Regions from separate parts of the Homo sapiens genome. Here region 2 is linked to region 1. The links come from fine-mapping of genetic effects on gene expression. A gene starts in region 1. The other region holds a variant in brackets. All regions are shown on one strand. Distances are from middle to middle.

Region 1 (16,864 bases):
GTTTAAGGTTAAAATAAAGTGAAATCCTCATCTTTCATAGCAGGATATCAATAGATAATCATAAAATCCAAAAATCAATCGTGAAAAAAATATTCTATCTTGAAATCTGGAAGCAAATTTCAAAAGAATCAGATTTTTAAAAGTCAAAAGAAGTGTCCTCTATGAGCAGTTAATGTTAAGGAGACAGGAATACACAATGAACAGTTATTTTCATAACGAGTTTTACAGTTATTTGACTCCTTAAACTATGTGCATGTATAACTGTGATAATTTTTTAAACATTTTAATTACAGGGACAAAAAAAGTAAGAAAATAAACTTCCTATTATAATTTCAACAAAAGGGGAAAAAAGATCTCACGAGAGTAAGTTCCATTAATTCCAGACTGTGTCAAACATCTCTGAAGTTCTTCAGCATCCACTTCACCATCCTGTTTAAAAATAATTATGACCTAATTTAATGTGCAGTTGTATAAAAGCATATTAAAATGTCAATTGACTGTTCTAGGCCAATCAAGACATATGCATTCTTTGAAACATTACTCTATAATTAACTACAAAATTCTAGAGATAATTACTGACAACAAAGGCATATTACAAAATATCATACCACAGAAATAATTTCTTCCACTTCTGAAGAATAGCACAATTACCCTGTTCTATAATGGTTCAAGACAATCTCATAAGAGTCATTGTACTTCTATTTTAAACAGTTAGAAAAACAGTTAAACAGTTAGAAAAATGCCTAAAATGTGTTCAGAAAAGTCTCGAAAACATCCCCACTCATGCTGTTTTGGGAGGAGATTATTTATAAATAATACTGAAGCTTTAACTGGAAGGGGAAAATATATTTTCCCCCACCATTACCCCTAGCAAAATTCTAGAGTCCCCCTGTATCTTGCTGCTATTCTTCTGATTACTGCCCAAACAAGTCTTGCCTGAACTTACTACAGAAAATAAAGTTTTAAAATGCAAACAAGAAATCACAATGGAAATGAAATAGGTTGAGTATTCTCATTATGATTTAGTACCTCATCCTGTTTTTGACAAAAATAAGTAATTCCTTTGGAACCATCACAAACATTGGCACAAATGCAAAATGTAGCTATGATGAAGGATCAAGGAGGCAAATTTAAAACCTACTCTTCATAAGAGATCCAAGAAACAACAAAACAAAAAACTTTTCTAAACTACTTCTAAGAAATATTATTAACACTCACATTCTAATGGATTTTTGGCAAAAGAACCCCTTACAAAACTGCAGCTGTTCTAATAGAAATTACAAAATACTAAGCAGCATTCTTCCCTTAACTGAATTAGGTAGCATTAGCGGTAGAAAGCTGAATGTCCTAATTAAATTACAAGAGCATCAGGTAGAGAATTAACAAAAATCAATTGCCCTTCGTTAGGCAGCAAGATTTTAAAATGATATCCAACTTCAAGTCCTATTTGTTCAGTTACTCAATTTGAGTCTCCACTTACTTATCTATAATACAAAGGTAGCTGTGTCATGCCCACATCACAGTTGCTGTGTGGAAAAGTAGAAGCAGTGTGCATACAAAAGTTAAAGTTGTTGGTATTACTGTGATGCATGTGTCTGTATGTATGAAGACAGAAACCAGAATTTCCCCAAATTAATTGATGATTTAATCCTTACTGTTTAGAATACTTCATCCTATAAATAAGAACACTGCAGAAACCTTTAATCAGGTGTTTTTCATAGAGCATTATTAATTATGAGGCCCATCAAAAAAGGATATGGCTGTAGATGTAAGTTCAGTAGTTGGGTTCCAGGAGCAGTATACCTAAGTCAGATGTTGCACCTGATCCCTCAAAGCTAGGTAGAACTCAATATATGAAAAAATACAGTCTAAATATTTAGACTAAAAATTGAAAATGGGATAGTTAATTCATCCATACGAAACATTTATCAAATGTTTATATATTCCTAATATCTACCTGTCAAGTAGGGAAAATATGACCAGAACCCTGTCTTTATGGAGTTTATTTATTCAAAAGCACAAGACTGGGAAATTTAAGGAAAGTATCAAATAGTTCAAACATAGCGAATTTATTGCTGACAATTAAAATGCTGAAATAGTTCAGCAGTCAAAAAGAGTTTCCAAATATATGTCCAGTTCATATACTTTAAGTTGTAATTTTATATGATGAATGTATTATATAGTCAAACAGAGATAATAGAATTATTCTCAGTATAATACTACTTATTCCCAGTATAATCCTTTAAAATGGCAATGGTATAATGAGTAGAACAGTTAAGGTACCATTTAGCTGCAAACAGGAGAAAATATTATTGAAGATGCTTAAACCAATAGGGGTTTATTGTTTCATACAATAGGTCTGAGGCTAGGCAGAACAGGGCTGTATGGCAACTTAGACATGTCATCAGTCTCTACATTTTTCCACATTCCCTATCTATAGGTCTTTATCTCAAGCCTGTTGTCTCAGGGTCACGAGATGGCTACTGCACCTCCATACCTCAAGTCCCCTTTCCAGGCAGGAAGAATGAAGGGGCAAAAACAGCCACAGCCAAGGCTTGCTCCCAGTAAGGCTTTTTTCATTTGGGGTAGAAAGATTTTCCAAAGATACTGCACCTACATGTCAATGGTCAGTCCTACGGCACATGGCTGCCTTTAATAGCTACAAAGGTATCTGGGATGGTGACTATTATAGTTCCCCAGCCTCTATTACATAATAAAAGGTAAAAGGGGGTTTTAAATGAAATTGGGGTAGCCAAAACAGAATGTCTGCCACGTATATTAATTCTGTGTATATTGTCTAATCCTAGAAAAGCACATTAGACCTAGTGAACACTCAAGGGAATGAATAAAATGTTATTAAAGTTCTATAAAATTCTACCTACATCAATAAATCTTTCTTGACCATTATAAAAGAAAAGAGATATGGACTACAGCTAAGACTCTAGAGTGAATTTCTGTTTCTGCCCATTAGTATGGTATTAGAACATCCATTCTGCCAGTTTCTTTGCCTTTTCCTAATCTGTTTTATCATCGAGCCTGTCCCAGAACCATCCACAATTTACAAATCTCCTCTTTGATACATTGCCCCAACTCCTTCAAGATGATTTTCATGTAGATCTCTTTTTCCAAATCCTCTCTGGCCCCCAGTCTCCATGCACCAATCCACTGTATTCCATAACCACAGAAGAGCTTTCAACTTTCCCCCCAAATTGTTAAACAAGTGAATGAAACATATCAAGAAAAAAAAACACACATCTTAAAAAGATGTTCCCAAATGTTTCATTAACACATGCAACTATCTTAGTTCATCACTCTTCTAAGAAGTTTTGTAGACAAAAACACAAATATAGCAGGTGCTGCAATACATGCTGAAGCAGCAGCAAAAAAAAAAAGACAAGCTCATTTATTTCAACAACAGGAGATAAACATCAATACACCCTCTTTTCAATCCTTTAATATATCTGGAATTCATGCTACTATATGGTACAGGCTGAAGATTTACATTTACTTTTAGATAAACTGTTAATTATTTCAGGATAGTTAATTCAGGAATCATTCTTTCCCCACTGATATGAAATGCTACCTCTACCATATACTGAATTCACAGGTAAGCTTCTGGGCTCTTCAGTATTATGTTTGTTTTTACATTAGGACCACACTATCACAATTATTAATAATACATTTATATGATATATTATAATTTAATATTTATTCTCAACAACATAGTATACAAGACAGACTTTAGAATCATTGCAGCAAGTGCCAAAAAGAAAAAAGAAAAAGAAACCTTTAGGAATTTGACTCATATAATATTATATTATTTATCAATTAATTTGGAAGACATTGGCATCTTATAATATTGTATTCCTTCCGATCTTGAATATTTACTCAATACTTCTGTCAAATACAACTAATAACTGATACAAAGGGGTATAATACATATCCTATTTGCTTAATTTTCCTTGAAATTTCACATGAAAAATATATATAAAATCACTTGGAAAAGAATAAACTGTGGTATGGTGTTACAGTTATGTAGGAGTAAAAGAAAAGCTTCCGTTGACCACAGTATTCACATATCATCAGTAACAATTCACCCACAGAATTCATGTACTTGAACTGGCAGTTTCACACGTCCCTATTGGTCATAATAAAGTCAGTCCTTTAAATAATCACTCAAATTTACTGGAAACAAATAACATCCTAAAACCATACCACATCGTAACATACTATTTCCTTTAATTTTTAATTAATAAATCCTGACATGATTATTTTGATAACCTGGAAAATTTACCAGCCATATCAAATCAAAATTACTATAAATGATATAACTTCACCTGTGAAAAAAATGTAATTTCTCAACCTGAATAAATTTACGAGACTCTGAAGTGATTTCCAATCATATTGTTTGACATACTTAGGTTTTAACTGAGTTTTTTTTAAAAAATGGGAGTGAGGCCCAAGTTAGAAATATTGTTCCTTATAATTTTTTAAAGTGCTTCCTACTTTCCTAAAATTTCCAATAGTCATTTTTGCATGCTATAAAAGAATGTGCAGGCTAAACCTACTTAGCTTTGTGTTATCTATCACTCAGGGAGAGTATGATGCTCCTAAATGTCAAACAGAGTGAAGGAAATAAAAAGATTTAAGTGACAGAAAAATTATAACTCATAAGAAGATATATCTAAGTTTTGGTGGGGTGTTTAGTGACTAGTAAGAGGAGCCCCTTGTAGAAGAATTTCAGTAACGCAAGCATACTAGGTAAGAAAGAATCAGATTTCCGCACTATGGAAAACAATGTTTCCTCTTTTAGTCAAATGAACAATGTATCAAGCATCACATCAACAGACTTTTAAAATGAAATAATTATGACTATGCTCATCTCTGATCTCAGGAAAAAAATTAGTCTAGATACATATAAAATATAAATTTCATATACATTTAAAATGATACTCTAAATAGCTGACATTTCTCTTAAACAATAATTTTAAAGACATATTTATGCAATAAATTTAGCATCTCACCTGTCCAGCAACAGCACTGAAGTAAGTATACACGGAGTCACCAGCTGAGGAATAAGTGTCTGAATATGCTGGCCCAGAGTATCCATCGAGGAGTATAGCTGGGCCTGTTTCTGGCACTGGCTGTCCCATCTGCATTCCTGGCACCTGAATGCTAAAATTTCCAAACTATAATAGTGAAAGGGGAGAAGGTTAGTAATATAAATACTACCTATTATCTATGAAAGTTGGATTAAAAGAAATTATTAGAAGTCCGTCAAAAAGTAAACAGTTACCAAAAGCTTATAATCTTATCACAAAAATTTTAACTACAAAATGTTAGATGTCCTACATTAAGACATAATTCAATTCATCAACATATATTACCCAGCATTAAAAGAAGTATAAAAGAAAAAAGAAAGTTACTAGCCTCTAAGAACTTAATCTAAGAGGAACATGTACAATTTTAAAAAATGTTTACCAACATCACTGAAGTAAACAAAAAGTAAAACAATGCAAGATTTTACCTAAAGTAAAACTAAGAAGTAAACCTCAAGACACATACTTAGAAGAATATATGTGTAAATACAATGAAACTTTAAGTGTCAACATTTACAATATGTTGGGTATTGTATTCTTTACAACTATTTAAACTTAAAATAAAAACTTTATATGTCAATATAAAATATGGGAAAAGGGTATATAGTTTTTCAAAAATCTTTTAAGGGGCGGGAAGCAAAATGTTTAAAGAAACTGCTGTGGTTCTGGTAGTATCCTGAGGGATGACATAGAGTTCTGTATGCTGGCCTCCCACTTGTTTCTTTTCAGCCTATTGTGACTTATTACAGTTTATATATGTGGGATTCTCTGATGTTACAGATTATGTGATCTAGTTTTAACTAAAGCCATAACAAAATGGCAATAGTAAAGATTCAAAAACATGCAAAGCAACATGAAAGGCTTGGACATGAAAATATTGTCTAAGCCTTTCCTTACCCACATTATGTAGTAATAATAATAATGATCAATTTTGACTCATTTGAAACTGTCAAGAGGACAACTTGAAATATAAATTTATGTAAACCGTGTTTAGGGATGAACCTTGTTGGCCAGGGGCCCCAGTTCTCCTCCACATGGGCCCTTTCACATGGCTCTTCCACTTTTTCATAGCTTGGCAGTCAGCTTCTAAGAGAGAGAAAGAGAAGCTGCCAGTCCTCTTAAAATATTGAGTCTGGAACTGCCATGGTGTCTTTTCTACTGTATTCTACCAGATGAAGGTGAAACAGGCCCAATCCAGATTGAAGAAAGTGGAGAAATAGTCTGTGCCTTTCGATAAGGGGAGTGGTAAAGAATTGGTAACCATCATTAATCTGACCACCAGGTTCTCAAATTATGGGACTGGGGAAAGCTAATGCTGCAAATTGGGAAGGGAAAACAGATTAAAAGTTATTCCTAAGGACAGATTCTTCATCTTTGAATTGATTTTGTATGCTATTTCTTGTGTGAAAATCTAATCTGTTTAAGTTTTCTGTGCTTAAAATGTTTTTTTATTATTGAAAACACTGAAGCTTGTATAATACAACATGTACAAACAAAAACATGTAACGAAGTTTTAGATTGTTTCATTTCCTGTGACCAAAGTGAGAAACAAAGAAAAAAGTCCTTTACATTGAGTTATAATTTTTATTCGTATACAATTAGTAAAAAAAAGAAAATAATACAATTTTTATAAACAATTCTTAAAAGAAGAAAGTAAAAATCTATTGGAAATGCATCTCCTACAGAGATAAATCATGCACTTAATTAGATAAAAGTATACTATCAAAACAATTAGGTCTAGCAGCTGACATTTTATATTTTGTTAAAAGAATATAAGAAACATTAATAAGGCATGGGTTTCCTTTAACAGGATTTATAAACGTCTCAACTATCTTATTAATATTCTCCTACTAAAGAAATCATGTAAGTTTTATCCCAAAATTTTATCCAATGTATCTTAAAATATTTCAATTACATTTTTTAAAATCAGTGCCTCTAATCTATATATTGCTTCAGCTATTGAGGGTACTTCTCTTTCCGGCGATTAATAATGAGCATGACAACAGCTGAAAAGAGTTGTTTATTTTAAATTCATGGAAAAGGGGATTTAAATATTCAAAACACATACAGACGTTCTCTTTATTGTGTCGTGGAACTCTCCATCAAATTCAAGCACTCTGACAAAAGTGGGTAAGGAAGCACCAAATTATTTGAATGAAAATGTATTACTCTTGCCACCTCACTCTACCATACATATATGAATTCAGAGCATACCAAGAGGAGTAAATATACAAACTTCTAACAGATAGCTTCAACCAAATGAAAATACGTATACGCTAGGGACGTTTTTAAAGACCCACAGGTTTATGCTATCTTGATTAATCTTCGAAGGGGCTTTACTTTCCTTAGGTACCTTAAACTTCCTTCCTAAATTTAAGGACTGAGGAGGCATAGGCATTACAAAGTGGACGGTGCCAGAGGGGATTGAGGCAAGTCTTAAGGAAAGCAAATCAATTTTAGGAACAAGTATGTGTGGAAGTTGAGGACCTGGAAATTCATATCCTAAAACAACAACAACAACCACAACCACAACCACCACCACCACCACCACCACCACCACCACCACCACCACCATGAACTCCAAGGGGTAGGAGTAACTCTTTTGAAGACCACAACCATAGCCCAAAGTCAAGTCCTATATTAAAATCAGTAAAACACAATTTCTCTTTTTAGGTAAAAAACAAATAGAAAATATATTATATTCTACCCACACCGCAATGGATCAAACTACTGTTAACTCTGTTAACACAGCGTGTAGATCACTGACATCGATACTAAAGGTTTGGGCTCCTTTCTGAAAAGAAGGGGCTAGCCACCAGGACTCTACGATTATAACTTGCAACTCCCAAAGGTGATGCAGGATAAAAGTTATAACAAAGAGTAACTTCCCCCCGCCTGGGGGCGAGCGGGGGAGTCTAGAACAGATTGCCCTTCGTATAACAGTAAAGATTAGGAGTTATTTACCGTACACCTTAATTTATTCATAAGGAACTTAAAGAACAAGAAGTGGTCAGGAAATTCAAAAAGAGGATCTCTAGCAACACTGAGTGGGGGGCGGGGGAGGGAAGTACCACAAACGATTACTGGAACAAGAAGAGGGTGGCTTGTTCCTCCATTCCAGGAAATAAATTTCCAAACACACATTACTCCCTCGGCTCCACCAGGACGCTCCTCGAGGGTCCTCAACGACCAGAAAACCTGCGGCTCCAAGTCAGCCCAGGATCAATGCTCGCCCAGGCCCTGGCCCCCAACAGCCCCGGAATCCGGCGCCGCCGAGTACCAGGCGCGGACGCAGGGAGCAGGAGCCAAGGGCGGACCCGCACGTTGGCACCGCCCCCGGGGGCGCCACACCCCGCGAGGAAGAGGGACACGACCAAGCGGCTGGGACTCACCCCTCCTCCGTATCCCGGGTAGGCCATGACGAGCGGGACGAGCGGAGCGAGCGTCACCCTCGAGTCGCGTCCGCAGTGCTGGGAGAAAAAGCACAGGCGCAGGTGCAAGGAGGCGCAGCTGCAGGTGAGGCTGAAAGGCGCACTAACCGCACAGTTCACTCCTCCGAACCCGCCCCCTTCCGCAGGCCAGCCCCGCCCTGCACGGTTCCGATTGGCTGAGTCCCACACTTTGGAGCCAACTCAGCTGCAGTCCGCCCCTTCCCGCAGCCTAGCCCCACCCATCTCTGCCCTGATTGGCTACACCCCATCGGGAGCCCTCCAGTCCCTGCTCGACTCTTACTGGCTCCCTCAGGTTCTCGCGCGCTCTCCTTCTAAATCCCGAAGAAGCCTTGGCTGCTGCAACGGAATTCCCACTCTCTGTGGAAAGGTCTTCTACAAGCCTTCAACTCCTCAAGTTACTTTTCTTTCTAGAAACCCCAAACCGGCAAGTCTGTGACTTATTTTAACCAGCCCTCCACGCTTTTGAGCTGGACTTCAAAGACCCATCTGTGAATTTCAAAATTTTGCAGTTACATTTACTTTTGTGTAGTGTTGATGTCACATCAAAACTTTGCAACCAGGACCACACCTGTGGTCCAGGAGGAGTGCTTCTGCGCCAAAACCCACTTGAGGCCACATTGGACGAACAGGTTATTGATTCTGTTTGGTAGATAAATGGTGACCTGAATTGTGGCATGTTGGCAAATAAACAGGATATCTAGTTAAAGTTGATTTCCAAATAAACTTTTTTAGTGTAAGTATGTCCCAAATATTGCACAGGACGTGAACATACACTAAAAACTTATTTGCTGTTTATACACTGATAATATAGACGGTGTCCTGTATATAATCTGACTCAGCCTTTGGGCAAACTCTTGTTAAATGTTCAATTACTTTGGCTTATTAAGTAATAGCAATGGACAAGTCTGATTTATCTCTGGAACTCAAATGAATTTTGTAGCTCTGACTTTAAAAGGACAAGGCAGCTGTAGCTTTGGCTTATGAACAAATGAAAAAACCAAATGATATTATTTTGAGTTATCTCTGAAGAACAAGAGAAGGGCTAACATGTTTCTTAAAAATAAGGCTATCAAAAAAATGTTAACTATTCACAAAGGAAATCAGCCTTGCAGAGCTGAGTATCTGTTGTTCAGCTATGCTACAGAAGAGGATGTTGGACCTTGTGAAACAATTCTCAGAGGAAACAGCAGAGAGAAAGGAAGATTGCCGATGTCCTAGCTACTCTTGGGAAAGTGTCTGTAAGTTCCTTCAATGCTGTAAGAAATACTTAAGCCACTAAGGTTAAATTATTGGCATAAATAAATAGAGGGGAAGGGTAAAACCTACGTGGCAAAAGGGAAAAATGCATGGCTTATGAAGGTATCAAATGATAAAGCGCTAGAAAGAACAAACCATTGCAAAATTTTATTCCAACGGATTAACTACATATTCAAAGAACTGCTTAGGAAGGATTGAGTGTTTACATTTACAATGTTAGTCTGATTCTGTGGTCAAAATTTTTGTGCATCTTGTTTTCATCAAAATAGCCTTATTGATGCAGCTGCATTTGTGCAGTTGGGAGTTAAGGCCCCATGGGTTTCTTGCCTTTCTGCACATTTAATTGCAAAGATAGTATTTCCTGCCAGGGCAAAGTTTGGGTACGTTTGCTAGCAGCCTTCTTAGGACTTTCCTAAGCTTGGAGTTCTTCCAGTTGCATAACAAACACAGTGCATGTACAACACCCATCTGGCAGCTCCTCTTCGCCTTGTGGGACTTCAGAACGAGGGGAATCTATGGAAGTATGAAGCTCATGGTGCCTGTTGTGCTTTGAGTAATAAAGTTATTTGTCTCAGACTCAGGAATCTCACACATTCTGCCAACTTCCATGAAACTGTGGCACTCTACTTGTTTGCTTATAACTAGGGTAAAATATCAGATCCTTCATAGTTCCTGCCAATATATCTCTTAACTTAGAGAAAGGGCTACCAAAGAAAGTTCCTACCATGAAGATGCAGAGGAGGACTTTGAACAACACAGCATCTCTCTCTCTAAAACTAGTGTTTCAAATTTTAAATATTCTAGTATAAAAATTCAAATAAGGCCATAGAGTTTTTTTTAAATAACAGTAATGTTAATTTGCCTCCATGAGTCAAGTTAATACTGTATGAACAATAGCATTTTATGAAAATGTCATGTCTATTTAAAAAATTTGCTTTTTAAATATTTTTCTTTTAATAAAATCCTTCTTTACTTTATAAAAATAGTTATAGAGTGAATACGACGTACTAGGCATTGTGTGTTGTGAAGTGTTATTTCTCAAAACAACTCCATCAGGTATATGTTATTATTCCCACTTTACAAATGTGAAAAGTAAGGTGGATAATTGTATTTCACTACCCACAAATGCAGTTGCATAGTGACTAGCAAATCTGAGAGTATGGCTGCAGAATGTGGTTTCTTAAACATTGTATGTCCCCTTTTCTCTCCATCCCCAACCATAGTGCTGTATTTCAGAATATAATAAAATTGTTTACACCATAAAAGAAAAAAGGCTTTAAAAGTTTTTAAATGGCAGTAGAAAATATAACTAGAGAAATAGCCAAGGAAACACATTGTTTTGACCAAGATTAGCCAATTTAATTACTTCTCTTACACAGGGTACATCCTTTCTGGTGACTATAAAGCTTACAGGATTATGTCTAACTATGGAATTTCTTCTGAATCTTGGTGGCATTGGTCTTATCATAAGTTTAGATATTCAATTAACCAGCACATTTACCAGTAAAATGTAAACAATAAATTAACTGCAGTTCTTTTTCCTATCTGTTGCCACCTCATTTTCTCTTTCCCACTATATGAATGAGGGAGAGAAAAGAGTCACAGCTCCTCAGCAAATTTCAATCACAAACCCAGAGCCTACTTGCCTCATATAAATCATATATATATATATATATATATATATATATATAAAATAAATAAGACATACCAGCTAATGGAAACCAACATTAATGGAGTTTATTTTATATCACTAAGAAATTTCATTTAGATAGAACAATTCATTTACTCAATAATTATTTATTGAGCATGTATAATGTAACACTATTTTAGATGTGGAAAACATACATCAATAGGAGGGGAGGAATGTCCTTGCTTTTTTGGAGCTTACATTCTAGCAGGGAGAACAGACAATAGTAAGTAAAAATGATGAGTAAGTAAATTATAAACCATGTGAGAAGATGATAAATGCTATTGAAAAATAAGGAAACCTAAGTCAAGGTTAAGGGGTAGGGAGATGACAGAGTAGGTTGTAGCTCTAAATGGAGTACTTGGGTAGCTTTATTGAAAAGGCAAGATTTGAGCAAAAACTTAGAGGTCATGAATGAGTTAGACATTCTGGAGGTATCTGTAGGAAGACATTTCCATGAAGAACTAGAGTTAAGGTCCTAAAGCAAAACCCTGCCTGACCTATTTGAAGAATAACAAGGAGGCCAGTGAGCCTGGAATAGATTGAGCAAGAGGGAGAGTAGTGGAAGTGGTTGCAGAAGCGGGGACATTGGAGCAGATCATGCAGGGCTTCACAGACCATTTTAAGTACTTGCTTTTATACTCTGGTTGTGATACGGAGCCACCGAAGAGTTTGAAATCTAAGTGGGACATGATACGATTTAGGAAGGCTCACTCTTTCAGCTGTTGACAACAGACAGAAGGAGGTTAGTGTAGAAACAAGATCTGTTAGCAATCTGTTGGTAATCTAGAGATGATGGTGACCTACTAGGGTATAGCAGTTGAGATGGTGAGAAGTAGTGAGATGATTATTCTGTTTTTAAGGTATAGCCAGCAGGGTTTACTGGTGTTTTGGATTTGCCCTTAAATTACATGGTGAAGACTGGGGAAGGAGCAGTTTGGGATAGTGCCAAATCAAGAATTAATATTGGAGATGTTAAATTTGAGACGCCTGTGATACTAAGTGACTATGTCAGGCTGTTTATCTAAGAGGTTGCCTAGAGTGAACAGCTTCTGGTGAGGGTGCCTACCAACCACTCAGCATTTGCATCTTAACAGACCTTTCTCCAATTGATACACTGATGACAAGTGGCAAAGAATTTATTTTTAGAGAGGGAGGATTCCTCCAAAATGGCCCTAACAAATTGCTGATGCTGATAATGAAAGTGAAAGGGGACTAAGAAATTAAGGCCTCTTTGGGCATCATTGATTATAAAAATTAATTAATAATATAAATAGTTTTATGACTTAGAGGATTAAAGGTATAGCCAATTGCATATGGAAAATAATTCTGACGACTTCTAAATCCATATAACACTTAAGAAAGTACGTACACAGTGTCTGTTAGCTCAGGCTGCCATAACAAAATACCATAGGCTGTGTGGCTTAAACAAAAGGAATTTATTTCATACAGTTCTGAAGACTAGAAGTCCAAGATCAAGCTGCCCACAAGGTCAGTGCCTGGTGAGGCCTCTCTCCTTGGTTACAGATGGCTGCCTTCTCCCTGTGTCCTCACATGACCTTTGCTTGGTGCATGAGGATAGCCAGAGAGGGGGCAAACTTTCTGGGGTCTCTTTTTATAAGGGCACAATTCCCATCATGAGGACCCCACTCTCATGACCTCACCTAACTGAATTGTCTCCTAAAGATCTATCTCCAAATATCATCCCATTGGTGGTTGGGGTTGCAGCATGCAAATTTGGAGAGGGAAGCATTTCATTCATAGCACACAAAATCTGAAAGTTGAAAAAAGAGACACTTGATCATAATGTTCACTGTTGTTCTGTCACATTGATCTACCCTAGTATTTATCTATTTTATGCTAAAATGTATTCCTTAATTGGATTTCCAATATTCCTTAACATAGATTTCCTTAATTGATCTACATGCAATAATTATCATACTTTTCCAGAAATTATTCATTTTTTTAATATGGAATAATGAAGATATATATGTGTTATTTGCATAAGACATAAAAATATGACACTATCAAGTGAAGCCATCCAGTCATAATTTTATTTTAAGCCCGAAGTTGTTCCTTTCAGTATCTTTCTAAGGGTTACTGCCCACCAGTGAGGACAGAAGAAAAATAATAAGCATGCCAAATAAGACAAAAATAAATATTATTTACCATTTATTACCTCAAGCAGCCACTTGGCAAACTGACCTTTCTTCAGCTAAGCTCTCAATAACACAGTTTTCTGTTTTTAATTCTGAAAATACTAGTACTCTTTTGGCAGGAGTACAAACTCTAAAGCAATTTAATAATAGTGCATTTTAGCATAAAATTGTTAACAAGGCTCTTCAGAAAGGTGATGATTGGTATACTTTCTGCATATATACATCCTCACTTTGATTATTAAGTCTATTAAGCAATTTGGACTCAATGAAAACTTCTTGAGAAATTATATATATGTAGATAATGTTGATCACAGTATGTGTCCACAACTAATGCTGAATAAGAACAGCAACAGTATGATTAAAATCCTCAATAAAGTCATCTGCTTTTCAGGTAAGATCAGAAAAATACCTACCTTAAATTTTAAATCCAAGTTGCGTGCTTATGAATATCATTTAGATTCTACCTAGATAACATGGGATGATATACCCACAAAGCTGCCTTTCTAGAAATATATAAATTAAATATGTCAGTTAAATTCTGTTATGTTGGTGTTTATCCCACTGGTTAGTAACCCGCTTCTGTAATAACATGGGTTTGATACACCCACAAAGCTGACTCTCTAGAAATATATAAATTAAATATGTCAGTTAAATTCTTTTATGTTGATGCTTATCCCATTGGTTAGTAACTCGCTTCTGTGTAGTGTCAGTTAAGTTAGAGTAGTCCTGTTACAAAAAATTAAAAATCGTTTCATCAAAAACATAAAAGTGGCCCAATTCTTAAATATATTCTTGGCCAACTAAAAGCTGAGATCATCTCATTTCCACATTAATCCTCAGGTGTTTTGTGTATGTGTAAAATAAGAGTGCCCCCCTTCATATTTATGTACAATTATTGGTGGAAATAAAACCTGGTAATAAAAATTTAAAAATTACAATTTATTCTTTTATATAACACTTGATATTTTTCACAGCTATTTTGCACATTATCACATTTGACTTTCACAACAATCTTGTGAAATAAGTAGCACCAATTACATCTTCAGAGGAAACGTAGTAATAACTTGCATTGTGGATGTAGACACAGATCAAAGCAGTTGCAAAATATTTTTAAAATAAAACATGAACTGATTATTTTTCATGTTCAGGAAATAGCACACAAAATCTGAAAGCTGAAAACAGGAGACCCCGATCATAATGTTCACTGTTGTGCTGTCACCTTTCACTACACAATCACCAGTGCTTGTGTAGTTTTGAATGAGTGTGAGAGAATAAAGTCCCATTCTTAGAGCCTTTAATGTTACTTAAAACCTAAGAATCAAGCTATAAAACACTTCATTGCTTGAGTTATCCAAAATTAGGAACTGAAGTAAAAGAAAGAGAAAAAAACTTAGTACTCTCCTGGTACAAAGAGGGGTAAGAATTGTGATAGGTACTAATGTAGATGACGACCCATGATCAGTTATGGGTGGGTATAATGAGCCCAATTAATGCACCACCCAAGATCTTCTCAGCTCACCTTACCTTAAACGCTTTCCTTGTTTTCTGTCTTTTAGCCATAAAGCTCAGTTGCTGCTGCTGCCACTTCCACCAGAAAAAAGCAGATGGCACATTCAGACACAGTAATTGAGGGATTGTAATAAAGTCACTATTTACAAAAGTGTTGACATAGGTAAGATAAACCAATCAGGCCTGATACAGCGTCCCAGTGCAAGCAGTGTTGAGGACCCATTACCACCCTTAGGCAGAAGGTGCGAGGCAAGAAAGCAGTTATCAAAACATGGATAGAATTATTGTATGAAGAGGGTCCCCTGACACATGACTTTTAGCACACGGATGCACCATGACCTGCATTAAGATTAGCCTAGGGAATAAATACCAAAACCTCACTCTTCTCCCTACCTCTGCTTTCCTGCTATTGCTTCCATTGGCTGAATCTGATCAGAAGCTAGAGGAAAAGAGAGCTCATTGACGCAGTCCACAGAGGTTAGGCTCCCTGGCACAGAGCAATGTAGAGAAGAGTGAAAAGTAGATCTTTATGGGCAGGTGGAAAATGTCAAGCACTCTGAAGAAAAAGAAATTCCAGAACTTAAATTCCCAACCCTGCTCAAATTAAACAAATCTCAGTTAGCGTTTCAACCCATGAAATTGTTCTGTAAGGTAAACCAAAAATCCAGATAAATTGCATAAAATAGATATTTATAGAGTAATTATATTGAATGATTAATCTGTATTTAATTAAATCCAAATGAAATTCCAGAACTTAAATTCCCAACCCTGCCCAAATTAAACAACTCTTCAATTAGAGTTTCAACCCATGAAATTGTTCTGTAAGGTAAACCAAAAATCCAGATAAATTGTAAAGTACATATTTATAGAGTAATTATACTGAATGATTAATTGATACTTAATTAAATCCAAATATTTCACTGAGCAACTAGGCTATATAGAAGACAGAAAGAGAGAGAGAGATATACTTAGGTTTTTATTCAACTTCCAGGATTATAGTAAGGACTTGAGCCACCCATTAAGAGAGGCACTATGGCAACCAGCAGAAAAGAAAGGGAGAGGAGATGGGAGGAGAAAGGAGGATGTTACCTAGCAACAGAATCTTTAGGCTAGAGTTTGCTCATAAAGTGTCTAAGAAAATGGTTGTTACTGATATCAAAAAAATAAAATGAAAAGAAGATACAAAAAATGTCTGAGTGAGGACATAGAAACCATTTGAGCATATAGATAACAAAGATCAAATAATTATGTATTTGATTTCCTATGTGAAATATCTTTCTGTACATTATTTTAAATAAATCTACACATCAATAAATACATGTTTAGAAGGAAACAAAACTAATTTCCCTTGGAAAGCATTGCCTAAAATATAGCTTTTCATGTATAAATTTGAAAAACTAAATTATTATTGAACTCAACTTTCAACTGTTAACTAAGCAAAACATGTAGCTTCAGCCTATAAGTCTATCGTAGTATTACAATAACAAAAAAAAATCAGCTGATATTCAGTTCTTAAATTTTGATATTTTCCCTCATTAATATGTAGGAAACATCCATGTAGGAAACTACCTATCAGCTAAGCACATTATGCAGATAATAAGTTAATACCAATGTCAGAGTTGGGACAATTTCTCTTTATTAACATTTTATTTTTTTAACTTTGTTAATACTGATTTCATTAATTCACACACACATTCTGAT
Region 2 (16,864 bases), 630 kb before region 1:
TCAATTGTTTTTAAAGTTAGACATCCCTAACTTCCCAAGCCAATGTTGCTGCATATGTCCATTTCAGTTATAATTAGGATCAGCTGGGTTCCACACGTATTTCTCCTTATCACCTGCTATGGACTGAATTGTGGCCTCTCCCTCTGCAAATTCATATGTTGAAGCCCTAAACTTCAATGTGACTGTATTTGGAGATAGGGCTTTTAGGAGGTAACTTAAGTTAAATGAAGTCATCAGGGCAAGGTCCTAATTCAATAGGATTGTTGGCCTTATAAGAGGAGGAAAAGAAAGAGCACGCTCTCTCTCTCTCTCCAAGCATATAAACCAAGGAAAGGCTATATGAGTGTGCAATGAGAAGGTGACCATCTGCCAGTTAGGAACAGGGCCCTATCAGAACCCAACCATATTACTTCAGGGATCTTGGACTTCCAGCCTAAAGAACTAAGAGAAAATAAGTAAATAATAAATACTAACATTTTCTGTGGTTTAAGCCACCCAGTCTATGGTATTTTGTTATGGCAGCCCAAGCTGACTACCTCCATCCCCACTGCTTTTCAAGGTCATTCCTGAAAGTGGTAGTACTGCAGCTACCATTCATTTTAAGCTGGCACCATATGCCATGTTGACTCGTTAGTAAACCAGGCTTGAGCTCCTTCATAGTCTCTCAGCTTGCCATTTGAGATGCTTTTCCCTGCTCCATGGGACCATGTGAGTGGGCTGGAGGTTGGATTCTTGTGCACCTTGGTGAGTGATATGTAGGTTGGACCATCTGCTCATGCAGCTTACTTGCTCTAATCCTCCTCAAGCTCAAATCTGATGTACCATTTCCATTTTCTGATGGACTGCTAATGGGCCTGTTCACCTTTGTGGTTTGATGGGTCCAACAAAGGTCATCTCATGTAAGCAAAGTTCTAGACACACAGTCATTTGGTACAGAGTCAGTGGTCAAGCATTCCTCTCTTATAAGGACCCAGCAACATGCCAGGAGCTGTTTTTTGAAAAAGTGCAACATTATCCACTGTGAATGGCATGGCTTTGCTTCAGCATCTCAGAAGTCTGCATTGCTAGTAACTTGGGCTTGTCATAAATTCCACACTGAATCTTTTCCCATCGCTTATATTTCCAATATTATAGGATCTTCCAGATATTATGGCCCAAGAGACAATCTGGGCCTTCTGTGCTGCCGTTTCCTACTCAAGACCCCACTCAACACTGGCAGCCTTCCATATCACACAGTATGGAGGTTTGAGCAATATTCCTAGGATTGAAATGTGTTGACTCCAGAACTTGAAGAGGCCTAGCAGATTCTGTGCCTCCTTCTCTGTGATAGAGGATGTAAGATGCAGCAATTGGTCTTTTACTTTGGAGGGAATAACCTGACATGCCCTCTACCATGGATCTTCTAACATTTTTAACTAAATGGAAAGTCTCTGAATTTCTCAACTTTCCTAGGGCTTAATCTCTACTCATTTAATACATGTGTCTTACCAAGTCCTCCCATGTTCTAACCTCTTCATGCTCATTCTCTCTTGATCACCATGATGTCCTAAGTGAAATGATGATGTCAATGATTAGCAAAGAAATGCCACATTCGACAGAATGTCCAAAAGGTACAGATCTCTTCAAACTATATTATGAAAGACAACCAGAGAGTTTATATAACCCTCGGGCAAAACTGTAAAATGAATATTTTTGTCCATTCCATGTGAATTCAAATTATTTCTTTTCCTATTTTCTGAGTACAGGCTTGACACCTATAAAAGAAGTGAGGGAAGAAAAGAGGAGTGCATCAGGAGAGCTTCAGACTGAATTGGAATTGAAAATCTAGGCTAAAATAATGAGGAGTCTTCAGAAAAGGTTTTCCTGGAGGAGTTCCATGTCAGTCAAAAATGGCTGGCTGTGGTAGTTCTGCCATTGTCAGTCATTGCTGTAAGCAGCCTAAGGGAAGCATGACCACGGTGTGGCTGTAATGGTGGATTAAAAGTGCACTGAAAACTCAGCCAATTATGGTCTCTGCAGCAAATTCTCTTGAAGAGAGATTCAAGCAGTGCAAAGCCATTGGTACTAAGAACAGAAGAAAATACTGTTTGTTATCATTGCTCTCCTTATAAAGATCGTTATTATTAGACTAGTTTCACTCTCACTTCTTTAGATCATCCCTCCAGGTGAAAAACAAACAAGTAAACTATTTCTAACAGATGCTCATCCTCACTTCCCTAAATAAATGTTGAAAAAATACATAAAGAATATGAATCAAAAGGGATATCAAATTATTATTCTGCCCAGGGTATTTGCAATCCAACCCTGTGAATATTTGTCTTCTATCACTTTCTCTTGAGTCTCTCATCATCACATCCTTGCTTTTGTGCTGATGTATGTTGGTTAGTGGGTATGTGATATTTTAGGTAGCTGCATGCAGGAGTTTGATCATTTTCTTTATTCAATTATGAGAACATCGTTCATCTGTTAGGTATCAGATTTGAGCTTACATCTGATTTCCAAAGGTGTAAAAATCTACCTTTTTAGCATGCAAGCTGACAAAATAACTATCTAACTGGAGATATGCCATCCTAAAAAGATTCCTTGTTTTGGCAGAAATATAAAAGTTTTGTGATTCAAAGCAAAAAAAAAATGTCACCAACTGCCTGGGTATGCTTTGGCACCTTAATGTATATGTTTTCCCACATAAAATATATTTGTAATAGTATTCAATCTTGTTCTTGGAATTTTAATGAGAAAATATTATCTAATAAAAACAAGACATTTTGTTCTGTTAATTTTTCATTTTGAATGTGCTATATGCTAAAAGCCTATTAGATACAGAATGCAAATTCTTCTTAAATTTGTGGCTGTTCACTTTGATAGAGCAGTCTGTATGGTTATTGTTTTGATCATATCACTTTATTTACAAACTACCTCTCACATCTATTGTTTTTAAACTAATCTAAGCATCTGTCTACAGGGTTTTTCACTGTTTACTGTTTCTTCCATATATAGTTTTATCAATCTGTGAAAATCCTAGTTTGTCTTTTGCTGTTTTTTTTTCTGAGATAGATTTTCTCTTTCATTCATAATATTGTAAAAATGATCAAACAGATACTTTGTTTAACATAGATAGTAAAGTATATCAAGTTTTCTTCATTGTTGTACAAATCGAATTAGCAATATTAACATGTATTTATATTGTGATTTATTATCACAACAATAAATCACAATATGCATACATGTTAGTATTGTTTGTTTGGCAGTGAATGACACTCTCTTAAGAAACTACTTAGACTCCTGAAGAAATCTAAAAGTACTGTTGAATTTCAATTCAAGTAACATGACTGGAAGCTAATTCCCGTATTATGTGTTGGAGAGAAAGATTTGTCCTGTTTAAGATTGAGAGCAAATATATCTCCTGAGGAAATTGTCTATAGATAAAATCTCTACTTCTGTTCCCATTTACTCTTCATCTCAATCCATCCAAGTTTTTTCTCTACCATTCAAGTTAATTACCTTGTCAAAGCCACAAATGTTTTCCAAATCCAGTGGGCATTTATCAGTTTTTATTTCATTCATTAGACTTAGATTGCCATAGTTGAACACTCCTCTTTTCTGACTTACTTTTCTGTCTTGGCTTCCATGATGTTAGATGTAATTGTTATTTTTTTCTTTTTTACCTCCCTAGCCATTGTAACTTGATCTTCATTTCTGGTTCATCAGAACATATTGCAATTTTCAATGAGGCCTAATTTTGTCTTTCCTACCTTGTCATATTGGACAGCTATTGCTGCATAATAAACAACTATAAAATCTCAGTGGCATGCAATAATAAGCATTATTTCTTACATGTCTGTGGGTTGGCTGAAGTGGCTCTGCTAATCTTGGCTGGGCTTTCTCATATGTCCATAGAAGGGGGGTAGATTGGACTAGGTAGACATTGCTGGGTAGTTTTGCTTGAAGCTGAAAAAAGTTGGCTGATCTGCCAGTCAGCCAGGTGGCTCTGTTTCATATGTCTCTTATCCTTCTTGCACTAGTGGGCTGGGCACAGCATGTCCTTATCATGGAGATGGCAGACATGCCATGGAACCAGCCAAACAAAATTTGCAATGTTTGCAAAGATCATTCAGAATTGGCACACTGCCTTTTCCATTCATACTCCATTGATCAAAGAAAGTTACGTTGAGTCTAAAGTCAAAAGGCATGGAGATACACTCCTCTTTTAGGTAAGAAAATGCATTATTACATGGCAAAGGATGCAGATATTAGAGTGAAAAATTGGAGCTAATAGCTCAATCCACCACATTGACCTAACTCACCATATTGCTCATCTTTAGTTCTTCAGATAGATTATTTTTTCCCATATCAGGATTATTGCATGTCATATACACTCTTTTTGCAGTACTCTTCCTTATTTGCCTGACTGGCTCTTATGGAACATTCGTTTCCTCACAAATATATTTTCCAACCATTATAAAAAAAATCAGCTGTCATCTCTCATGCAACACATCACAGCATCCTATTGTTTCCTTACAGCAGTCAATGTATAGTATTCTATATATTATTTTATTTGTTTGTTAAATGTTCCACCATTCAGATTTCAAACTTCAAAAAAGTAGAGAGTATATGTGCTATGTTCACCATTGAATTCTCAACACCTAGCATAAGGTCTTGCATATAGTGTTCAATCAATAAATATTTGTTGAATAAATAAAATGATAAAAAGATTAGGCTATGTGTTTTTCTTCTAAAAATTATAAAAAATAGGTAGAGTCAAAAGCATTATCTTTAGCTCTTTGTGTTCTACAAATTTATTTGTTGTGGATGAAAGGGGGACACCAGGACAATAGCTTTAAAATAGTGAAGTATTGTTACTCATCTTTTAAAAAATTCAGTTTCGTTTTCAATTCAGAAAGCCTATTACTCTTAGAAAAATGTTGCTTTCTAACCTACAGTGGTATAACATCATAAAAACAAAGAGATCGGCTAGGACATTATTGCTGTGGTACAGATGAGATGGTGACTTGGAGTAGACTGGAAAACCAGAAACAGGAGAAGGTTTTGGAGGAACATAATGAGTTCCATCTTGGATACAGAAAGTTTAAAAGATGTATGAATGAACATTTGAATGGAGATACTAGCAGGCTAGAGAAAGAAATTTGTTAAATGGAGTAACAGTGGCCAAGGGAGTGGGTAACATTATCTCTAGGAAATAAGCCAAGAGTGAGAATCAAAGAGGTCCTAGAACTTTGCCCCAAAGAGCTCTGACAATTAAAGCTTGGCTAAAGGAGTTGAAATCAGACATAAAAATGAGAAGGGGGCAGTTACAGAGAGGCAAGAATACTATGCCATCACACACCACAATGGAAGAAAATGTTTCTGAAAGAGAAAATAGTTAACGATTTTGACCACTGTTGAGAGGGTAAGATGTGGAAGCAATAGTATCCACTGAATATGTACATACAGAAGACCTACTTTACATGATCAAGAGCAGTTCAGAGGTGTTCTTTTGGTGGAAGCTAGAATGGAGCAGACTAGAGATAAATACAGGCAAGTAATAAAGTCAGGAGATGTAGATGACTCTTAAGAAGTTTTTGCAGGAAGTGGGAGAAGGATAAATATAAAATTATTATGACATATGAGTCTTCTATTTCTCCTGGAATATCAATTATTTTTCCTTCATTACATGAGGTAATCAAATATCTAGATATAAAATAGCTAACCATTAGGTTTGAATCTTAACCCCACAAATTACTAATTATTTTAATTATTTTATTTAACTTTTAAAGCCTCAGTTCCTCATATCTAAAAATAGGGATAACAGTATCTAATTTACTGGATCCTTAAGTGTCAAAGAAATGGTTAATGAGAATGTGATTGGCACAGAGAAGATGCTTAGTAAATATTTGATCTTGAAAGGGTAAATTTTAGAACTAAGAAACAAAGCACACTTCACACTGAGGTCCTATTAAGATATTAAAAAAAAAACGAATTCCTTTTCTTGTTTTTAACTGTGGTGCTTTGCTTTCACAGCTCGTTTTGCTCTTCTGCCATATTATCTTCATTTTCTTCTCTTTTTTTCCTTGCTTCATTACTATTCATGCTATCAAGATTTGGAAATACCTTATGCTCTTTTTTTCTGCCTTTGACTTTTCAAATTGCCTGAACCTTTCTCTCTCATCCACCCAGCACTTAATTCTTGACAAATAACATTCTTACTCTGAATATCCTTACTCTGAGCTGCAATTACAGATGTGGATGACTTCTCGAACTACACCTCCTTCCCTGACACCCCAAACTCAATGGGCATGGTACCCTACTTCTTGGGTACCCTACTTCTTGGGGGACTATTAATATTAAAAATGAAACAAAAAGTTGTAGTAGCTTAGCTCTTACAGAGCAGATCGTTCTTCTGCATGAAGCACTTTCACATATAACACCATTTTTTCCTTATAATCAGCCTATGAGATATATATTCATATTATCCTCATTTTATAGATGAGAAAACTAAAGCACAGAAAGGTTGAGAAACTTGCCCAAATATACAATTACTAAATGATGGAACCACTATGTCTGCAGTCTATAGACCTTTGGTCTAATTCTAAAATCTAAAAGTTCTAAGACCCAAACATTTTTGTAACCTCTTTTCTGGCAGTAGAAACTTGCCCTTAAAGTGATTTAGTCCAGGAAATTAAGATAGTAGTTATATCAAAGGAACAATTTGTTTGGACATGGAGACCCATACATGTTTGCAGGCAGCAGGAAAGGTGTTCACGGAAAAAAAATATGTTATTTTGACAAACATATTTTAGCATATTTTTATATTGCACACTATGCTAGCCTCTGAGTTTATTGCAATGAACTCAACACAGATTCTGACAGAACAAGACCTTAGAGGAAGCAGGAGATGGGAGGTAAACAGTGTGAAGCAAAGAGGGAGCCAGGTGGATTGGAATGTTTATGATCTGATTCCTATGTAGGGGAATTTTGGGGGATCACATAGAGGGATTAGCCTTGCTAGGAAGGAAGAAGTAAATGGGAAAAATGTTGAAGGCTTTTCAAATTTCTAAGTTATTATGGATATATAATAGTTTATAAGTTTAAGAGGTACATGTGAAGACATACAATGTGTAATGATTTAATCAGTGTCATTGGGGTATCCATCACCTTAAGCACTTGTCATTTCTTTGTGTTAGGAACATTTTAACTTCACTCCTCTAGTTAATTCGAAATACATAATAAATTATTGTTTGCTAAATTTGCCCCTATTGTGCTACCGAACACTAGATTGTGTTCCTTCTATCTAATTGTGCTTTTGAGTTTTGAGGTATAGTGACACGAAGACAATGTAGGTTACACCAGGATACCTTAACTTTTCATTGAAGTAGGAGTAAGGTGTGAATGTGTGCCTCATGCCTTTGATTTCTCTGCAGTTAT[G/A]TCTCCATGTTCCTACATGGTGTCCACTCTAGCTAGTGTCTCCCAAATGCAACAAGCACCTATCTCCTAGCCTTTCTCATTTCTCTGAAGTGCCTTCCCACTCCTCTAAATATATTAAGGTCTCCTTTTCCTACAAGCCATCTTGAGTCAGTGTAGACTTCTCATAGAAGAATTTCTATGAATTCCTGTTGCCATCTGTAGCAGTGTAGGTATAACATACTCATTAAGAACACAAATTCTGGGGCCAGATACCTGGGTTTATATCAGTTCTACATCTTAATATGGGATGTTTGGAAAAGTTACTTAAGCTTTCTAAACTTCAATTCTAAATTGCAGATGACAGTAATATCTACCTCATAGGTACATTTGTCACATGGTAAGTATTCATTAAATGTTAGCATTTATTATTTATTACCTACTCCACACATGCACTCAGCATATGTTACCCATATAGTTATTTTTCTTATATATCTCTCTCTATATATATATTTAGATATGTATACATATATACATACGTATACATACATGCACACATATGGGTTATCTTCTCACTTGAAAGCAAGGGTTGAATCTGAACTGCTCAACTCCGTCTATCCAAAGACAGCTGGCTGGTCACTTAAAAAATGCATAAATGATAACGTAACATTTTTCCATTGTGCAGTTTCTGTTTTGAGTCCCAGGTCAAGTCATCCCTCTTAATGTATCTTACACAGTATCTCAAGAACTGTGTTCCACATTATTGCTTTGATGGATTATTAGTAGCCTCAGAGAAAAAGTAATGTTGTGATAAGAAAAAAATTGAGCTTAGTGTTCAAATACCTCTGTTTTGGAGTTTGTCAAACTCAGTACCATGGAAACTTAGAGCTAAACAGCTATTTGTTTGGGGGTTTGTCCTGTATGTTGCAGGATACTGAGTAGTATCCCAGGCCTCTACAAACCAGATGCCAATATTGTCCTTTTCCCAGTTGTGAAAACCAAAAATGTCTCCTCTGTACATTAGCAAATGCCCCCCTGGAGGGCAGAATTGCCCCTAGTTGACAACTGCTGATGTAACTACAGTTCTATTTATACTTGAGCTTTGTCGTTTTTTAGCTACATGCAATTTTGGATAGGTCAGCTTACTACTGTAAGCCTTGAATACCTTATTTGTAAAATGTATACAATATTAGCTACCACATAGAAATGTTACAAAGACTAAATGAGATATTGTATTGCAGTATCTGGTACACAGTATATCCATAATACAATTTGTTAATCTAAATTTCAGAAGTCTCCATTGATTATCCACTCACAACAAGAGAAAATGTTAAAAATGCATCCAAAGGATGAAAAAGATCATGCCCATTTCTAACTCTCAACTTCTCTCCCATCCTAACATCAGTTTCCACTTGATTTGACCCATGTTTGCTGCAGAGCTAAAATTGGCACTGTTTTAAGTAACCTTCATGCACCACCTGTCTCTTCTGGCAACCCAAACTTAAAGAGCAGCAAGTCAGAAGTGGAGGGGAAAACAAGACACAACCACCAAAACACACTAGCAACCAGCAGTAGGATGGGATTTTGTAGCGAAAGAGAAGTGAATTCTTTGTCTCTAAAGTATGCAACACGCTGCCTGTGTGACTTCACAGCATTCAAGTATTGAGACCAAACTTAAAGAATATTATTCTTGATATCTGAAAAATAGTACGCCTTAATCAGGTAAATTAATCATTATTATTAAAGTAGAATATTAAATATTCCCATTATAGCTTAGGAGATTCATGAAATAGCTGTCCACATAGAGTGAAATTATTCTTAAGAAGTTTTTGATTCAGAACAAATTCTGTTTATGGTATTGAAACTATAAATAAAATATTGTAATACTAAAATAATAGTGAATGCTTTAAAACGTGAAACCACATTATATATGTCAAAGGGTACAGACGGGGTCCTTTCCTAGAGGATGTTATATCTCTTAGGCTTAATAAAAATTTGATTGACTGACATGCTGCAGAATTGAGCTGTTCTGTTTCACTTGGATTTTTTTTCTTGGCCTTGACTTTGCAAAAAAAAAATCTCCAAATTGTTGTAAATATGTTCTTGTACATTTTTCTGTCTTAAGAAGCAAAGCAACCTGAGACTTTCCTTGCTAACACAGATTCCTAAAATGCTTCAGGGATCTACATTCTCATGAAGAATGAATAATGAGGTAGAACTCACTGAAATGAATATTTACTGGCCCAAAGGAAATATTTAGAGAATTGTTTTTAATATTAGGCTTCTGGGACTCATTTTTTTCTTATATTTGTCTCTGCTTGATAGAAGCCAAGCATAAAAGTAGCTAGATGACTTAGATTTTACTATAGTAAATTGATTGTATCAGAAAACATAATTTAGGATCACTAAGGGTCTTAATGAGGTCATGAATCTCTGAGCTGACATTAAAATATTTGTTCACTTACTATAATTAGCCATAAATTACCAGAAACTCTTTTAAAAATGTACAACATACTGTTTTTAATTCTCCTTCCCTCCCACCCTCCCTTGATTCCATTTCCCTCCCTCTCTCCCTCCCTCCCTCCCTTCCTTCCTTCCTTCCTCCCTTTCTTCCTTCTTTCCTTCCTTCCCAGTGTCAAAAGCATTATTTGATTATATAAGCTGTTCCAGATGGCAAATTTGATCAACATGGATACACAGTATGTTACCACAGGCCTACCCACCTCTAGGAAGTGTTTTATCTCATCGATAAAAAATAATGACTTTGACACTAAATGTGTTATAGCCATATTGTTACAGACAATGTTATACTTACTAGACATCTAGCCATCATTATCATTCACCTTAGAATTAGAACTCAGTCATAAACTGCCATACAAATAGTTTGAATCTATTTTCTTTTGCATTGCTTCCCCTACACCTGTCGTTTTTGAGTACAGAGGAATATAGAAGAAAGAAAAATTTTTATTTTCTTTTTGCTCATAGATTGTCACCATGATTCTACCTTATATATATGCATATATGTACACCAACACACAAAAATAAGCATACATAATCTGCCACCTTACCCACATGCTGATTTGTTAGATAAGGATTTGTGAAATCAGGTTTTTAACTTTTTTTGCTATTTTTTAAAATGAGTTTTTATTGCTCTGATGGAAAACTTTACTTAATTGAAAAGGCACAGTTTTTGCCCGTGTGTGACTAGAAAAGAGCTTTCATCCTATGTGATCTAATTATTTGTGATAAATTTTCTCTTTTTATTTCAACTATTCGTTACTTGTACTTACTTTTTACTTACTAATAACCTTATTGCTTCACTGATATTGCTCTTAAACTTGAATTTCATTGACCTTTTGTGTGAGAAACAAAAGATAAATTATTTTGCTTGGTTTTTCTATTCTAACTCTATTTTATGAAATTAAAAAGAAAACTTGTTCAGAATGTATATCATAGACTTAAATGATACATTAAATAGCAATGGAATGCACTTATCCTCTCTTATGATTACTCCACAGTTAAAATACATTCAGTTTGTACCCATATTAAATTATAACTATTGTAAATATTGCAAGACCTACATACACTTTAATTATATTATATACACAAACACACACAAAGATATGATGAAAATTCTAACTTAAGGAATTGTACATTCTACATATCCTGTAAATAGCTTTATATATTTACATTTGTAATTTGTAGTTTTTGCTATATTTCATATATTTTAAATACTTTTCACATGATTTTAATCTCAAAACATTTTCTTCCTGCTTGATGAAGGAAACTAAACACAGTTTGGTTAAAGAACATATCTGAAGTCACATAATTAGTCAGCGTTCAACCTGAAACTAGAATCTGAGGCTTCTGATTTCTAATCTAGCAACCTTCCCACTCCATCTATTGCTGAGTGGGGTGTTGTAATTCTCCTGAGGGCAAAACTCATGAAATTGGCTTGTTTAAACCCAGTTAGGTACATTAGAAATATTTGATAGTATAAGACTGACATAGAACACTATTAACTTAAATTTCATTTTGTACATATTTTTCTAAGCAACCGAGGCAAGCAAATTTCCTTTTACTACTGTACACTATTGTGGGGGATTTAAAATCTGTTTTGCCTCTTTATTCGCTTCACCCCCGCTTCTCACCACATCTTTCCCTTCACTATTGCTTGACCTTTTTCTAGGAAGATTTCCCAGTTTAGGGTGTGTGTGTGTGTGTGTGTGTGTGTGTGTGTCACTCACAGCTGTCTGCAGGCACATGTTCCGTTTTTGTTTATCATTATGTACTCCATCCCAGATTCTGTTTTTGAGTGGAGTGCTTCATAAATTGTTGTTAATGTTCACATTAAAGCTCTTTACAAATAAAATGCCGCATACAAGAATGACTGCCACAAAACAGGTAGACGGGGTGGCTAATTATACATCTTTGCATTTATGATCTCCCTCAAGGAAAAATAAAAGATGTGTGAGTTTAGAACACACAGACAAGGTGAATACAAAATGCTTACTGTTTTGAGACAGATGTCAGTGAATGAACTCACCTCAGGAATAGCTGTAAAATATTCAAAATGCTATTGTGCTGGGAAAGCAGATCTAACGTGCCCATGTACAACAGCCTGCAAAAAGGTGCTTCATATACAAATGGGCTATTGTTTCTTTATAGTAGATATAAACTTGAGTAATTTGAAATGGGAGCCAGAAATACAGACTTGATCTTGACAATTGAAAGGGTAAACAAAGCTAAAATTTGAAGGTAAAAATATTTTTCTTCTATTTCACTTAGTGAGACCAAATAGAATTTTCGTAAGTTATTGAACAAATGCTGAAGTCTATGGAAAATATCACTTAGCCTCTCCAACTTATTATATAATATTCAAAAACAAAGCTGCACTAATTGTGTTATTGAGCTGCTCCTGAACAACTGTGGTGACTCTTCCTTGTTTTATTTCAGTTATAGAAGCTACATATCATTGGGATTCAGAGAAGAGTGGTGGACATCCAAATCTCTTTGAATCATATTATTTCAGGTTAGTGATTTTAGCTGTGATATTAACATGCTAGGGATTTTAGTTTTAATAAGCCACCACAAATTACATTTGGTTTTGCTAGCATGGCTAATATTTTATTAAAACTGATGTCCTGTTAAATGGCTGGAGAACTTGTTGGCTATATGAAAGAAATATATTACATTTATTTCTTGGGTCTTAATGTAGTCAGTATGATGGATTTACACTGGTGAGCTGCTAAATCTTGCCTAATCTCTCTGTAAAACACAAATAGTCACCCTATAAACAATGCTGTTGGCACACCCAACTAGGAATATCTGATGTTAACAAAAGGTTTCCAAGATAGCTCTCCAGCAGTTTGTGGGGTTTTTTGCTGTTATCTGGTTTACTTTCTAGTGACTTGAATTGAAGGAGGAAAATGAAAAACTGGCCACCAAAGATGTCACAACTTAGTCTTTGGAAATAAAACCAATATGACATCTAATTTCAAGGAATATAAAGTAGTACTTCTATTTAAAGCCTGACAAGTATGAGCAAGGTAATACTCTTTTAGCTACAGTCTTGGGATGGACTGTGGAAAGCAAAGGAGAAATAAGGAGATTATTCCATATTACAATAAAACATTTCATTTGTTATTTTCAAGTTGCTTGCTTCCTATTAGAGTAACCACAGTATCAAGGTTTGCTGTAATCATGGGAGTCTAGTAGATCAGCCTGATCCTCCCCAAGTGATGCCCGAAGTGATGAGTTATCTAAATTCTGATGAGTCAATTTAACAAAAATTTAGGGAACATCTAATTGGTGACAAGCTCTGGGTAGGAGCTCACAGCCAGAGCTTCTGTTGGCTCAGTGACACCATAAGAAGGGAAACTCATGCCGCACAGGAAGGACTTGCTTTAAATGTAGTAGGTAAACTTTTGTGTATTGGCATGGCCTTCATCCAGCCTGAATTACAGAAACTAATGAGCTAGTTCTTTGGATCTGCCAAGATCTTCATTCTACATAAACCATACTGATTACAAAACTTGGGAGGCATCCTTATAAGAAACTAGGGAATCCCTATTTCTCATTGGGAGCTACATCTTCTTGGTGATTTGCATCATTGTTTCATATATTATTTACACTATTTGTTTGTAGTCTGATGGTAAACCAGAGTGGAAGCTATTTATGTCAAATATGATTACTCATTTTAATGGATATTCTGAATGGAATAGATTTTGTATGAGACTGGCTCACATCTTGCTAGGTGATCCTGAAGATGCAAGAACATGTATATTCTAAGTAATATATTCACAACTGTGTGACTATACCACATGCATAGGTGGTGAAGAACTTAATATATGATATTTGCTGTTCAGTTTAAATTTAAATATTTTATTTTGGTCAATTAAATGAAAGAATCAAACATCTTTTTCCATTAAATTAACTGACCTCAATTGGCCATACAATTAATTACATGTGAATGTCAAATATAGGCGTCCTATGTATACACAGGCTGAGCAACCATAATCTGAAAATTTAATTCTAAAATGACCCAAAATCTGAAATTTGCCCTCACAAGTGGAAAATTTCACATCTGACCTCATGTGATGGGTCATAATCAAAACTAAGTCACAACTTTGTTTTGCGCAAAAATTATTATAAATATTATATCAAATTTCCTTCAGGTTATTTGTACAAGTTGCATATGAAAACTAAATAAATGTTGTGTTTAGACTTGGGCCTTATCCCTAAGACATCTCATTAGATATGTGAAAACATTTCAAAACTTGATAAAATCCAAAATCTGAAACACTTCTTATCTAAGCATTTTGGATAAGGGATAGACTGATTCCCTTATCAGAAACCTATATAGATGACTCAAAGCTTTCCCTTTGTATTCTATATAATTTTTTTCCCTTAAAGTCATGTAGAATCAAGATACTATAGAAAATTAAGCTCTTCTGGTTCATAAATTTTCTATTTCGATTGCATATTGTATTTAACAAATAGAAGTTTTTATATGCACACTATTTTTTAAAATCTCATTATTGAATATCAATTTTAACCTACAAATTATTTTTTTAAAAAAGAAAGTTAATGTACTACATGCGTAGCTGGTGAGGGAGAAAATGTCCCAATGCTTCACCTATTCTCATTGAATTTGGCATAAAAGAGTTAAATTATTTGCCCAAGATAACAAAGAGGCCACTAACCAACTCTAGAGTATTACCAAAAATTCTCCCAAAGTATTCTTCTGTACATATTGTCTTTGTTAAGTAGTAAGAATACCTTCACCACCATATTTGAAAAACTTTTGTTATCCAAAGGTTGAAAAACAAATTTGACAAAGACAGGGAATGCCACATCTGAAGCATTGTCATGACCAAGAATAATTACATCCCTTTCTTCAAGATAAATTACAATTTACCTAGATAGATATATTTGTTACAATAAATATTTGTATCTCTTTAGGTAAAATACTTCCCATGTATTTGAGGTAAGGGAATACTAAAAGGTAAAACCTAGTCATATCCATTATATAGATTTCCCAAGAAAACTTAAAATTCTAAGAAGAAATTCAGAAATTTAGAAAGTCTATTATATGTTTAAATACTTAAAGCAATATTTATAGTTGATTTCCTATCAAATTTGAAATTCTCTTTTCTATAGTTCTGGGGATATTTGGGGGCAATTATTTTATGTAAGCAGATGTTTTGTTTGTTAAATGTCTACCTTCAATTTACCTTAGGGCACTCACTGCTAATTTATCTGGAATCTTTGTGCACAAAGAGAATTTATCTTGATGAAAGGGATGCAGTTAGCCTTGGTCATGACAATGTTTCAGATGTGGCATTCCCTTTGGGCAGATACACTCTCGTGGGCACACTGCTCAGTGATCTGAACACTGGCTGAATTTGAGTCTTTCCTTAGAAGCCCAGCTGGCAGTTTTGTGCAGTGTCCAGTGTGCACAATGTCCCTGAGTTCACTCTCTGTTCTGTGCTTCTTGTGCACATTCTCACTTTCTAATAAAAGCTCTCCTTCAGTTTATTAATCTTGTCCTTTTGTAAGAGATACCTGCTAACCAATAGATTTCTTTGCCTTTAGATTTCATTTTTTGCAGCCAAGATTCCAGCTTTAAACATTCTAGAATTTATAAAAAACAACAGTAGCAAACAGTCAAAACTAAACTCCATAAAAGATAACTTTGCAAAATGTGAAAATTTAAAGAGAAGAAAAATGTAGAAATCATCAGCAAGACCAAACAACTGAGACTTTTAAGTGTTTTAGTTTAAATTCAGTCCCATGAGGGCACTATGAAATATTTATACTTTAATGTCCCTGAAGTAGTTTAATCTGATCTGCCAAGTCAGAGCTACAGCATGATGCTATGTCCCAGGGTCAGGCAATGTGCTGAACTCAGCAGGATAGGGCCCAGCTTCCAATGCTAACATATGTCCTACAGACTGTGGTGAAAAGGTTGTAAATTATGAAAATCCCTCAACTCTCAGCAACGGAACTCTTCTAGAAATGTTCAAGAATTTTCTGCTTAGATTTCTGGATATATTATTTCCTAATTGATATTTTGAGTAGAAGAAGCAATATTTACAGAATTGCTACACACACACACACACACACACACAAAACCAAGGTATTAATCTCTTAAAAATTTTGAGACATCATTAATAATTAAAGCTATACAATTGCTTCAAAAATTACATATTATTAATACATAGCGATGAAAACAGTTCATTAAGATCGGTGGGAAGGTGGAGCAAATCAATCTTAATTGATTTATCTGTTACTCAGAATAACACCATGATAAATAATTATCACCTAAACCCAATGAGTTGTACCATTTCCTTTAAGGTGATATTTGTGACATATTATCAGTGTGCACAACTTAAAAGCTTACATATGTTTTTCCCATCCGTGTAATCTAATCAAAGGTGCAAAGCCTGGATCTATGCCAGTATAAACCTTCCTTGTTACACAGTTGCAGCCGCATGGTCCATCTGGAGTTTCTGGTCTGCTTGATGTCACATGACAGATCCTACTGGCATGGAAGATGAAAGGATGTTCAGGCCACGTGTCTGGGGATGACAGTTTTCTTTGTGATGAACCCCAGAGTCACAGCTTGTTAAATAAGCCTGTAACAGTGATAAAAGACAAAGCCATCAGTTTGTAGCAGAATATGGCCTATCTTCCCATGACAAACTATGCTATCTCTTCTCACACACACTGACATCTCATAAACCATTCCCACAAGTGGTGGTCAGAAATAGTGTCTGAAGGCAGCCCTACAAGAGTGTAATAGATTGCTGCTTATCTTTGAGCAAATGAATGGAAAAAATACCTGGAGTGCACAGCGCAGTTCTCTTAGCCTCACAGAAGAAAGTGACTTTCTACTTAGAACATTTTGCATGATGGACCTATTTCACATAACTTTAAAATCCTGAGCAGTGACATAAAGATG

Alleles and levels. Positions count from the first base shown, and alleles are read on the strand shown. Sizes are in standard deviations (SD) of each study's normalised expression.
With allele A in place of G in region 2, the expression in cerebellum of the gene that starts at base 8,635 in region 1 is lower (large effect, 0.95 SD a copy in GTEx).

Evidence for each region. PIP is the estimated chance that this variant, and not a neighbour inherited with it, causes the effect.
Region 2: its variant is the best candidate, but not a certain one, in a credible set for the expression of GCA in cerebellum (GTEx, PIP 0.56).

The regions. Positions count from the first base shown.
Region 1 is chr2:162,335,903-162,352,766 of GRCh38, reverse strand. It overlaps GCA (grancalcin), which reads right to left and starts at 8,635. Exons shown (of 8, transcript NM_012198.5): 1 at 8,492-8,635; 2 at 5,025-5,189; 3 at 360-429. The coding sequence starts at 8,518. RefSeq lists silencers at 8,329-8,408, 8,649-8,798 and enhancers at 8,827-8,996, 8,849-9,078.
Region 2 is chr2:162,966,976-162,983,839 of GRCh38, reverse strand. No RefSeq gene overlaps it. Among named protein-coding and RNA genes, the nearest start is that of KCNH7, 140 kb to the right of the region's middle. The variant G/A (reference allele first, on the strand shown) is at 7,423.